Linked DNA regions of Homo sapiens. The protein of the gene in region 3 purifies or fractionates together with the protein of the main gene of each other region. This does not show direct contact. Each region holds a gene or a part of one and is shown on either strand. Other genes may lie near its edges.

Region 1 (3,751 bases), on a different chromosome or scaffold from region 3:
TCCATGCCGCAGACCCGTGGAACTGCTCCCTGGGCCTGGCCAGCATGAGGGAGATGCAGGGCTGTGGTGTGGAGCCCGCTTCCCCTGCAGCTGCATCCTCGCCCGGTCCCCTGCTCTGTTTTTGTCTCTGTGTCCCTACGTCACAGGCAGCAGGAGAGTCCGTGGGCTTAGTCTGCCCTGGGAGGCCTGCTTTGGGACTGGCACCTGCCCTGGACCTGGGGGGTGTCAGATGTGAATGGATACCAAGGGGGTCGGGTGAGACTGGGGTGGAGACATGCCCGGAGAGGGGAGGGAATGTTCTGGAACATGGTGGGTGGGTGTGCAGAGCAGTGGGTGTGGCCATGGCACAGTGTGGCTGGTGGAGGCCATGGCCAGGCACAGGAAGGACGTGCAGTGTTTTGGTGCCCTGAGGCCGCAGAGGGGGTGGGGGACATGGATGGGTGCTGCTGGGTGATGGAAGGGCAGTAGGGGCAGGGGAAGATGTAAGAAGTGTGCCAGCACAGGTCAGGGCGCCATCAGGGATGTGGTGGAGGCAGGGGCACAGCCCCGGGTTGCTGTGGCCTCGTGAAGGCACTAGGTTTGTGGTGCCCCTGGGGTGTGGCCCATAGGTGGGGGTGGGGGCTGGGAACTGACAAGAAGGGATGGCCATCACGGAGCAGGTGTCAGCGAATGGGGCCACACACCTCCCCAACTCACTGCCTGGTGGCGAGGTCCCCACCGCAGGACCCCGGGCTCTCCTGTGTGCCCGGACGGGGACACCCTCCACCCCTCCACTTCCCCCCACCCCTCACTGCCTGCTGGTGAGGTCCCCACCGCAGGACCCTGGGCTGTCCCGTGCGCCCGGATGGGGACATCCTCCACCCCTCCCCTTCCCCCCACTGCTCGCTGCCTGGTGGTGAGGTCCCCACACCTCAGGACCCTGGGCTCTCCTGTGTGCCCGGATGGGGACAGCCTCCACCCCTCCACTCCTCCCCCCGCTACTCCCCACTCACTGCCTGGTGGTGAAGTCGCCACTGCAGGACCCCGGGCTCTCGTCTCCCGTGCGCCCACCTTGCTCCAGTGTGGCCAGGGCCTCAGTGTTGGGGGCAGGCTGCTGGGAGCCTGGAGCCCTCGAGCCATCCCCACAATGCCGTTCTTTGCCGCAGTCCTTCAGCCCTGCCAGGGACCTGCCTGACAGCAGCCTGATCCAGGGCGCGGCCCACGCCATCGTGGCCGCCATCACCCAGCGGGGGAACAGCTCACTGCTCCTGGCTGTCACCGAGGTCAAGGTGGAGACGGTTGTTACGGGCGGCTCTTCCACAGGTAAGCGCGGGAGGTGGGCCCCTGGGAAGGCACCAGGCAGGCAACTCAGGCATTGGGCACAGAGCCGGCCGATCCTGCCGATCCTGCCAGCCACCAGGAACACAGAAGTCCCTGGCACCTGCTGCCCCAGCCGCCCAGCCCCACAACCTGACCTTCCCAGCCCCCGTCCTGGGACCCTCCCCACGAGCCAGCAACCGGAGGGTGGGGCCCGGCCGCCTGGCCCGCAGGGCCCTCCCAGGCCTGGGTGTGTGGCTAGTGCCCCGCAGGTGCCCAGGCCTCATTGCCCACCGGCTCTTCTCCCCGGTCCCCAGGTCTGCTGGTGCCTGTGCTGTGTGGTGCCTTCAGCGTGCTGTGGCTGGCGTGCGTGGTCCTGTGCGTGTGGTGGACACGCAAGCGCAGGAAAGAGCGGGAGAGGAGCCGGCTGCCGCGGGAGGAGAGCGCCAACAACCAGTGGGCCCCGCTCAACCCCATCCGCAACCCCATTGAGCGGCCGGGGGGCCACAAGGACGTGCTCTACCAGTGCAAGAACTTCACGCCGCCGCCGCGCAGGGCGGACGAGGCGCTGCCCGGGCCGGCCGGCCACGCGGCCGTCAGGGAGGATGAGGAGGACGAGGATCTGGGCCGCGGTGAGGAGGACTCCCTGGAGGCGGAGAAGTTCCTCTCACACAAATTCACCAAAGATCCTGGCCGCTCGCCGGGGAGGCCGGCCCACTGGGCCTCAGGCCCCAAAGTGGACAACCGCGCGGTCAGGAGCATCAATGAGGCCCGCTACGCCGGCAAGGAGTAGGGGCGGCTGCCAGCTGGGCCGGGACCCAGGGCCCTCGGTGGGAGCCATGCCGTCTGCCGGACCCGGAGGCCGAGGCCATGTGCATAGTTTCTTTATTTTGTGTAAAAAAACCACCAAAAACAAAAACCAAATGTTTATTTTCTACGTTTCTTTAACCTTGTATAAATTATTCAGTAACTGTCAGGCTGAAAACAATGGAGTATTCTCGGATAGTTGCTATTTTTGTAAAGTTTCCGTGCGTGGCACTCGCTGTATGAAAGGAGAGAGCAAAGGGTGTCTGCGTCGTCACCAAATCGTAGCGTTTGTTACCAGAGGTTGTGCACTGTTTACAGAATCTTCCTTTTATTCCTCACTCGGGTTTCTCTGTGGCTCCAGGCCAAAGTGCCGGTGAGACCCATGGCTGTGTTGGTGTGGCCCATGGCTGTTGGTGGGACCCGTGGCTGATGGTGTGGCCTGTGGCTGTCGGTGGGACTCGTGGCTGTCAATGGGACCTGTGGCTGTCGGTGGGACCTACGGTGGTCGGTGGGACCCTGGTTATTGATGTGGCCCTGGCTGCCGGCACGGCCCGTGGCTGTTGACGCACCTGTGGTTGTTAGTGGGGCCTGAGGTCATCGGCGTGGCCCAAGGCTGGCAGGTCAACCTCGCGCTTGCTGGCCAGTCCACCCTGCCTGCCGTCTGTGCTTCCTCCTGCCCAGAACGCCCGCTCCAGCGATCTCTCCACTGTGCTTTCAGAAGTGCCCTTCCTGCTGCGCAGTTCTCCCATCCTGGGACGGCGGCAGTATTGAAGCTCGTGACAAGTGCCTTCACACAGACCCCTCGCAACTGTCCACGCGTGCCGTGGCACCAGGCGCTGCCCACCTGCCGGCCCCGGCCGCCCCTCCTCGTGAAAGTGCATTTTTGTAAATGTGTACATATTAAAGGAAGCACTCTGTATATTTGATTGAATAATGCCACCATTCCGGCCTCCCTTGTTCTTTCGGTGCTGTCCCTTTTGTATTGAGAGTGAGGTTGGGGGAGAGCCACGCCGGCAGAGAGGCTTGGGGCAGTGGGGCGCGTGCTGGGTATTGGCCCACGTGGCTGTGGTGGCTGTAGAGGGCGAGACGGTTCTGTTGAGTCGGGGCCTGCCAGGGCCTCGAATGCGTTGGCATGCCAAGGTGGTGGATGCAGGTTTGGCCAAAACCTTCCTGGGAATGGGGAGGGGGGTGTCTAGGTGCCTGGCACCCGACCCTGACTAAAACAGCTGAAAACAGTTTTATAAAATAGTATAAAATTGCTTACCCACGAATACGTATCAAGGTCTTAAGGAATTAACAGGTCAAAATTTTTATTCATTCATTTATTCCTTTGTTTTGCTTGGTCATTCAGAGGCAAGGTCAGCATTTGATGGAGGCAGGAGAGAAGCAGCCCTTCCACCTGGCCCTGGAGCTGGTTTTGCCCCTCACTGCTTGAGCCAACTGGAACGTGGCATGGTGGCCTCAGGGCTGGGCATGGAAGGCCGACTCCAAGGCTGACTCCGAGCCGCCTGTCAGTGATGTGCAAGTCTTTACCCTGCTGTGAGGGGTAGGAGGTCAACTGAGTCAAGGAGCAAAGCCAAGAACCAGATCTGTACAAAAGAGAAAAAAAAAGTCCTGCTGACAGCCTGGGAGTGAGGCTGCCTTGCAC
Region 2 (3,651 bases), on a different chromosome or scaffold from region 3:
TTTTTAAAAAAGAGATGAAATCTCCAGTGTCATAAAGACTAATTTCTTCTTATTTTTTCTACCTTAACATCCCACTATTTCCAATGGCAAAAATAGGAAACAACTGTGTTATTTAAAGTGACTTATAAATATTTTGAACAAATCCTCTGATTATAATAAGCCTTTGCTTTATTTTTTAAAAGAACATGTTCTGCATTCTTTTCTCTCCAACACAGAAGTCATATGTGAGGCATTAATGGAGGGTGGGTTTACTCTTTCAGGCCAGTAGGGCATTACCATGGCTGCTTTAAACTTACACGGTTTTTTAGACTCCTGAAACAGCTAACGTCACTCATCACACACCTGCCATACTAGCTGGGAGTGACTTAGGCACGGCGGAAAGTCTGACTCACTAAATGTAATGAATGTGACTGCCATTATTGAGTTGGAGAGCAGCCGAGGAGGAGGGATTGGTTCATGGTACGTGTTGAAAATCTGTAAAGTCAGATTTTATTGGATCAGTGTGGAATGGGAATTCCAGAGAGCAGAGCCTTCCAGAATATTTGCAGTAGAAATATATGTATGGCCCCACTGATCACTGGTAGAAAATCAGCTTTGAAAATCTCAGGGTAACAGTGACTATTGTAATCTGCATTTCTGAGACTTGAAATATTTGGATGGTTATGAGCTACATTGGAATTTACACGTATCAGAAATCTATGAGAGTAAACTTTGAAATGATCTTTATATCTGTAAGAAACATTTATAACACTTGTGTCAAGACGTATCTACAAAAATATTTATTAGAAACACATCTAAAAATTCTAAGTACCTAAGATTATTAAACAGTGCACAAAATAGGGACAGTGTAATACCTTTATATTCTATTGCATGAGTCTCATTTAATGCTAATAGCCTGCATTCAATTCAGTAGTTCAATTAGTCTGACATTTAAAATGATCATATGTAGAGGTAATAAGTGAAATGAAACCGTTATAAACTCAAAATCAAGAATTTTAATTCCAGGCCTTCCTGATGATAATGAATTAAGTAAATTATTATATTTATTGGATTTATCTGTATCACACCATTTAGCAAAAGAAAGTATCTGAGACCATTTACAAAAAAGAAAATAAATAAAATACAAATAAATAAAAACCAAATATTAATTTTCTCATACATTTGTACCTCAGCATTCTTTTAATATAGAAAAATAAAAAATGGTCAACAGAATTTTAGTGTTTGACAGGCTTTATAAGGAGAAGATATTAAAAAGAAACTGTAATTCTCCAAGTTCTGGAAACCTAATGCATTTTGATTTGAGTCTCTATGTTTTGTTGGTATTGTGCTTAGTTGTAGCCTAGAAAAATTACTGAAGTACTTCCAAACTTCCAAATATTCATTTCCAAAAGTACGGAATTGACTTTCTCACCTTTTTTTTTTTAATCTTCTTAGAACATGAAGCAATGAAACAATTTGCTTATTAATTTATTTATTGTGAAATTATGCTATGAACAGTATTTTGATCAATATAATAAGAGTGGGATGAGGTTGGCTGGACTAAATAACATTTGAGACCTGAGGAAACATCAGAGCATTCCGGTATAATTCCTTTATGTTATGCTACCAAATGAAAACACTGAACCCAGAAAGGCTGTGGGTTTTTCTGGAGCTCATAGCAGATCAATGGCAGAGTGACAACTAAACTTCAGACCTTTTGGGTACTATGTATTCTTTACCTGGCCATGTGACTTCTCACAGCATCACTGAAGTCTCAGCCCCTAGGTCCTGTCTCCCTCTCCCTCTGGTATTTCTAGGTCTCATAGTTTTAGTAATTGTGGGAGGGACGTATTCAGTAAGTGTACCATAGTCTGAGGCTGTTGTGGGGCAAAAGGGCCTCAGCATTCTTGCTTCTCATTGGCTCACAGATACAGAGTATATACCTGTATCCACGACAGGTAAATGCCTGAGAATGCTCAGTCTCCAGCCCATCAAACCTTCATTTGGTTTGGAACCCGGGTGGAGGTACTTTGGGTCTCCTCTCTTAAGCCTAGACTAAATATTGGCCTTCTGGGGAGGAGGAAACTTTGAAATAAAACAATGTTTTAATGCACATTTGTCATTGGAGAGTTACTGGTGATCAGAAACTGTAGTACATTTTAAGAAGTAAGAGTCAACTCCATGGCAGGAAACATATTCTTGCCTAAAATATTTTTATCTTAACATCACAGTATTTGACACTATTCACTTTTTCTTTTTTTATTAATTTGAGACAGGATCTGGCTGTCATCCAGACTGGAATGCAGTGGCATGATCACAGCTCACTGCAGCCTTGACCTCTCGGGCTCAAGCTGCATTCTGACCTCAGCCTCCTGAGTAGCTGGGACTATGGGCACATGCCAATGTGCAAGGCTAATTTTTAAAAAAATTTTCGTAGCGTTGGGGTCTGCCCAGGCTGATCTCCAACTTCTAGGCTCAAGTGATCCATTTGCCTAAGGCTCCCAAGGTGCTGGGATTACAGACATGAGCCACCATACCCAGCCCACTGTTTTCATTTATAAGAAGTACTAATGCTAGTAGTAATATATGGATATCAGAAGGCATCTTGGAGAAGAAAAACAATTAGTGAGTTAGTTTACTTCTGCAGGAAATGCTTTTTTCATTGTTGAGGGTCCCAAATCTCTTTGAAAGTTGTGGGACCTTTCCCTAACTACAGCCAGTTTCAGAGCATTTCCAGACTTTCTTCTTGTCTTTATATATCCAGTCATGGCATGAGCATTAAAGTACACAGCCCTTGTGCCGAAAGAGAGAACTCAATTATGGTTATAGAGAGAAATCTCTCAGCTCCTAAATGAACTGTCTCTAAACATGGGAGAGACTTCCCATTCGAAGGTACTTGGCTACAAGTGTGGAGTATCTGTGGAATGTATTGTGTCAGTGAGCCTAACATTCTTTGCTGTGATGACCCTCATACCTTTCTGTTCATTGGAGGTCACAGCTGCAGGAGGCTTTGACTCTCCCCACCATCAAAATGCCACAGTAGCTTTTCTGAGCAGTAGGAATACGCTAGGTTGTGGAGATAATATGGAAGGAGAAAGGCTGTAGGAAGGAGAGGGAATTATTGAGGGGACCAAAGATTGATCACAGGGTAGGTCAGATACCAGCCTGGAAGGAATGTGTGTGGAACCCTTGAGGCTTGGCCAAGTCATTAGAACTGGAGCCTCTGGTTCAGCCAATTTCATGTTGTCTGTCTCCTGTGAAGGCTTTTGCATAGTGGGCTGTATTTTCTCTATTCCTGCAACCCTCCCAACTACTTAGAATCAAGGCTGTCTTCTCTGGGTGAATTCTGCATTTTAAACTCTCAGTCTTTAATGAAAGAGACAACCTGTATTGATAAGACAATTAAAGATTTAGGATTATGCAATTTTTTTTTCCTTATTGCAAAGCTTTAACTGTTTATTAAAAAAGTAATAATCCATACATAAGCCCATCATGCAGTGAGATCCATTGTACTGTTTGGTGAAAGTTCTTTTAGACCTTTTAAAGCCAGTAAATATGTGTGTGTATATATATATATATATATACACACATACATATATATACACTTATATATACATACATATATATACACACACACGCACACATATATATGTATTTTAAACTTAAAAAGCC
Region 3 (3,751 bases):
GCACAGGAACCAATCTGGGGTTGAAAGATGATTCACAGGAGGCAGTCTCCAAATGTGGAGACATTTTAAGAAATCTTTAACAGATTTATTTCCCATATATTTTTATTTTTCTATTCGCCTTCCAAAAGTCTACGTCTCAACATGTTGCAAGAAGCTCTGTTAATAAACATTCTAAGTGATGAGATTGCATCTTAGAGTTGCAAAACAACAGTGTATCTTTCAATAACATCTTAGTGTTAATGAGATACAACATAAGGATTTCTCTAAATGATTATCATTATAAAATGCATTAAAAATTATCCCTTCAAGCTGCCCCTTGCCACTTCTGTAAGATGAAAAATTAAGTACACATTAACTTCCCAATGCCCAATAGTAAAGCTGAAGTTTCATTTGGAATAAGAATGATAATTGTATATTAAAGATATTATTATTTGTCCTTTGTATTTTACCTAATCAAACTCAAACGTTTCTTTTTAACATTTGGTAGTAAACAAGCTGACAGCCTGGGCTCACTAGGAATCTTCACATTGTTGGCCTTCTTAGGTTCCGGGGTAGGGGAGAGCAGCCTTGTGCATCCAAACCACACCCCACACCTCCGCACATGTACAGGAAGCTAAGAATGAAGCTCAGAAAAGGAGAACCATTTCAAAGGCTATGGTACAGGCTGGATGAACTTAAGTCAGCAACTCTTCCCTATGCTGTGCCAGCAAGTGGAGGATGGAAAGTCTGGCCAATCCTTAGACATTTTCTGATTGAATCATCACACATCCATGAAGACTGAGGTCCTTTCCACAGCTTCGGGATTATTTGAATTTGTCCAAGCCCTTCCCTAGCTGGCACTTGCCTGGCAGGCCTCAGTTTGCCCTGCCCTTCCCTCTGTCTGCACACCTAAGTACTACACACTCCTAAGTACTACATCACTTATCATTGGCCACTAATATAATATGATTATGAAAAGCAGGTGTTTAGTACTTTCCCTGACCATGTAACTAAGATGCTGGAGGTCTCTGAATCCTCACACCAAGCACACCAGGAGATTTGGGCCATTGCTATTCTCCACCCCTACCCCCTTTATTGGAGTTTCCAGAGCCGTGGCTCAACTGCTAGAGCAGGTGGCAACTCTAATGACTCCAGAGCAAAAAATAAAGTGGCTTCATAAACGGTCCCCTTGACATTTCCAGAGACATCGTGCTTGGGGAATATAGAAGAAGCAAGTATTAGGAAGGGGAGGATGTGAAACCAGATGGGGAAGTGGCTGAAGCATTCTCTCTGATTGGAGCTTAGTTGGGCACTGTCTCCTCAATGTCGGAGCTTGAAAACTCTTAGAAGCCTAACTTGGAGTAGGACCAACCTACACTCATTCACCCTGAGGTCTGCAATAGTATATGGAGAATGCAATGAGTCAGTCTGCAACATTCGGCTCTGTGGTCCCTTACGCCACCCAGTCTCCTCCTTAAAGAAACTAATGAATGTGCTTGGGAGACTTTGGTTATCTTCAAGGAATGTGCTTGGGAGACTGCAGGTGGCATGATCAGCAGCCATCCAATCAGTAAACTTACCAGGTTAACAGACAACCCCATTTAGGCTGTCTCCATAAGTTCCAGCCTTTTACCACTCTTCTTCAATTCTCCTAGAGCATCTTTGGAAGCATGAGGCCACGATGCTGCATCTTGGGCAAGTAGGACCCCAAATCCAAACATCATCTCATCTCATTCCCAGTGCAGCTCCCAAACCTCAACCCGATTTATTCCTCTTTATCTCTAACATTATTCCAGCCTCCTGTGCCCTACTAGTCACCTCAAAGGGTGACTGAGCGTGCTGCTCAGGGCCTGCCTGAACGGGATCCCATACAGACTTAGCCCCAAGTGATAATCTCCACCTTTAAACCACCCTAACCTCTGTTTGTTTGTTTGTTTGTTTTTTCCATACTTGTCACATTCTCAGCTCCATGTTCAACCTTTTTCCTTTCTCCCTTAGCTCTTGTCTGCTGGATAACAGTCTTCCTCCTCCAGTGTTCAAAAGGAACTACAGGTAAGGACAGGACAGGGAAAAATGAGGAGGGAAGAGGTGGTGTTGGGAAAAGAGACTGGGAATTGAGTATCTGTTCTTCCTTGGATGTACACCATCAATGTCTGCCCCCAGACGCTCCTGTTGGCTCAGGACTGTGGCTGTGCCAGCCGACACCCAGGTGTGGGAACAAGATCTACAACCCTTCAGAGCAGTGCTGTTATGATGATGCCATCTTATCCTTAAAGGAGACCCGCCGCTGTGGCTCCACCTGCACCTTCTGGCCCTGCTTTGAGCTCTGCTGTCCCGAGTCTTTTGGCCCCCAGCAGAAGTTTCTTGTGAAGTTGAGGGTTCTGGGTATGAAGTCTCAGTGTCACTTATCTCCCATCTCCCGGAGCTGTACCAGGTAAAGGTCCCTACCTTGCTCTTAACTAAAGGAATGAGGGAGGGATGAGGGATACAGAGGGCTTGAAGAGGAACTCCTGTTTGTGGAGTTCTAACGGCAAAAGAGTCAGGCTGGTGGCAGCAGGGGAAAGCAAAAAGAAGAAGCAGATAAGCTATAAGTCTGCCTTTCTTCATGGTCGAGGACAAACAGTCCTCCTGCATAAATAACTCACAATCTTCTTGCACCCAGCTATCACCAGACACTCAGCTGGTAGAAAAATGCAAGCAGTGCAGTTGCCTTCCTGATGTAAAAAAACATGCTAAATAATCCAGTGTCAGGAAGACAAAGATGTTTTGCTTCTCTGAAGAAGCTTATAATAATATACAGTATATGTATATGCAGGGAACAATTGGTCAAAAGTGGCTTTTTTGTTTCCCCAAGGGGAAAGACTGGCTTTGTAATTATAATTTTTTCCTTACTTTACTTAAAACTGGTAGAGTCTAAGTATTGTATGAAGTGTCCATGATTCTGTCAGTAAATTTGAGCATATTTTTATTAGTTAATGTCAGTTTAAGTAGTCCTTTTGTTTCTATTTTTAAGATGAATTTTAAATTCTATCTGAAATCAGTAAGATACCTGGAGAAAAACTGCAGTGAGAGGAGGTCAGTATCCTTTTTCAGGAGGAACTGATATCTCTGGCTAAATATCTGTCCTTTTATTATGGTTTCTAAATCGGTTATTTTCTTCAGCTTTAAGTTCATAAAATTAAAAAAACTATTAAAAAATTCCTGTAGCTGTTGGAATAATTAAAAATTCTGGTGCAGTGGTGGTATACCAATCTTTAGAATTCTTAAGTAATCTAATGTTTCAAGTTGAGGTCATGCTTGGGAAAATCATGTCATAGCATTTACATTATTTTCAAATGTCATTTTTTTTACCCTGGAAAGAAGTAATAATGTTCATCATAACCCTAGCAGTCTGGATAGTGAGCTAAACAAACCCTTGGAAGATTACATTTTAATCAAGTAGACTAGGAATACAAAAAACAAGTCCTTCCTCCCCTTCCTCCCACCTTTACAATCTTACTGGAAGGGTGTTCAGAAATTAAAATTTGTGTTTGCTAAGACTTTATTCTGTTGGGGGTTTTAAGAGGTAATACGTGTAATGTAAAATGTATGTAAACCATTGCAGTTTTTTGGGGCATTTTTCCATGCAACAGTAAGTTGTCTGACAGTAACCGAATGTAACTTACAGAAAGTAATTAAAAGTTATATTCAGAATAACAGCAATCAGGCCTTGGATGTTCTTTATTAAACTCTTTTCAGGCAGTAAACTTTACCAAAAAAATCTGTCATTTTC

What was found.
Region 1: the proteins of IGFL3 (region 3) and JAG2 purify together in Homo sapiens (affinity purification with mass spectrometry; one large-scale study listed by BioGRID and IntAct). This does not show direct contact.
Region 2: the proteins of IGFL3 (region 3) and FBN2 purify together in Homo sapiens (affinity purification with mass spectrometry; one large-scale study listed by BioGRID and IntAct). This does not show direct contact.

What each region holds. Positions count from the first base shown.
Region 1 is NC_000014.9:105,141,033-105,144,783, reverse strand, and holds part of JAG2 (protein jagged-2 isoform a precursor), read left to right. Parts: intron 1-1,145; coding exon 1,146-1,302; intron 1,303-1,613; coding exon 1,614-2,089; 3' UTR 2,090-3,751. UniProt on the Homo sapiens protein: Putative Notch ligand involved in the mediation of Notch signaling. Involved in limb development.
Region 2 is NC_000005.10:128,531,635-128,535,285, reverse strand, and holds part of FBN2 (fibrillin-2 precursor), read left to right. Parts: intron 1-3,651.
Region 3 is NC_000019.10:46,122,548-46,126,298, reverse strand, and holds the start of IGFL3 (insulin growth factor-like family member 3 precursor), read left to right. Parts: upstream 1-1,610; 5' UTR 1,611-1,649; coding exon 1,650-1,674; intron 1,675-1,977; coding exon 1,978-2,031; intron 2,032-2,142; coding exon 2,143-2,413; intron 2,414-3,751. UniProt on the Homo sapiens protein: Potential ligand of the IGFLR1 cell membrane receptor.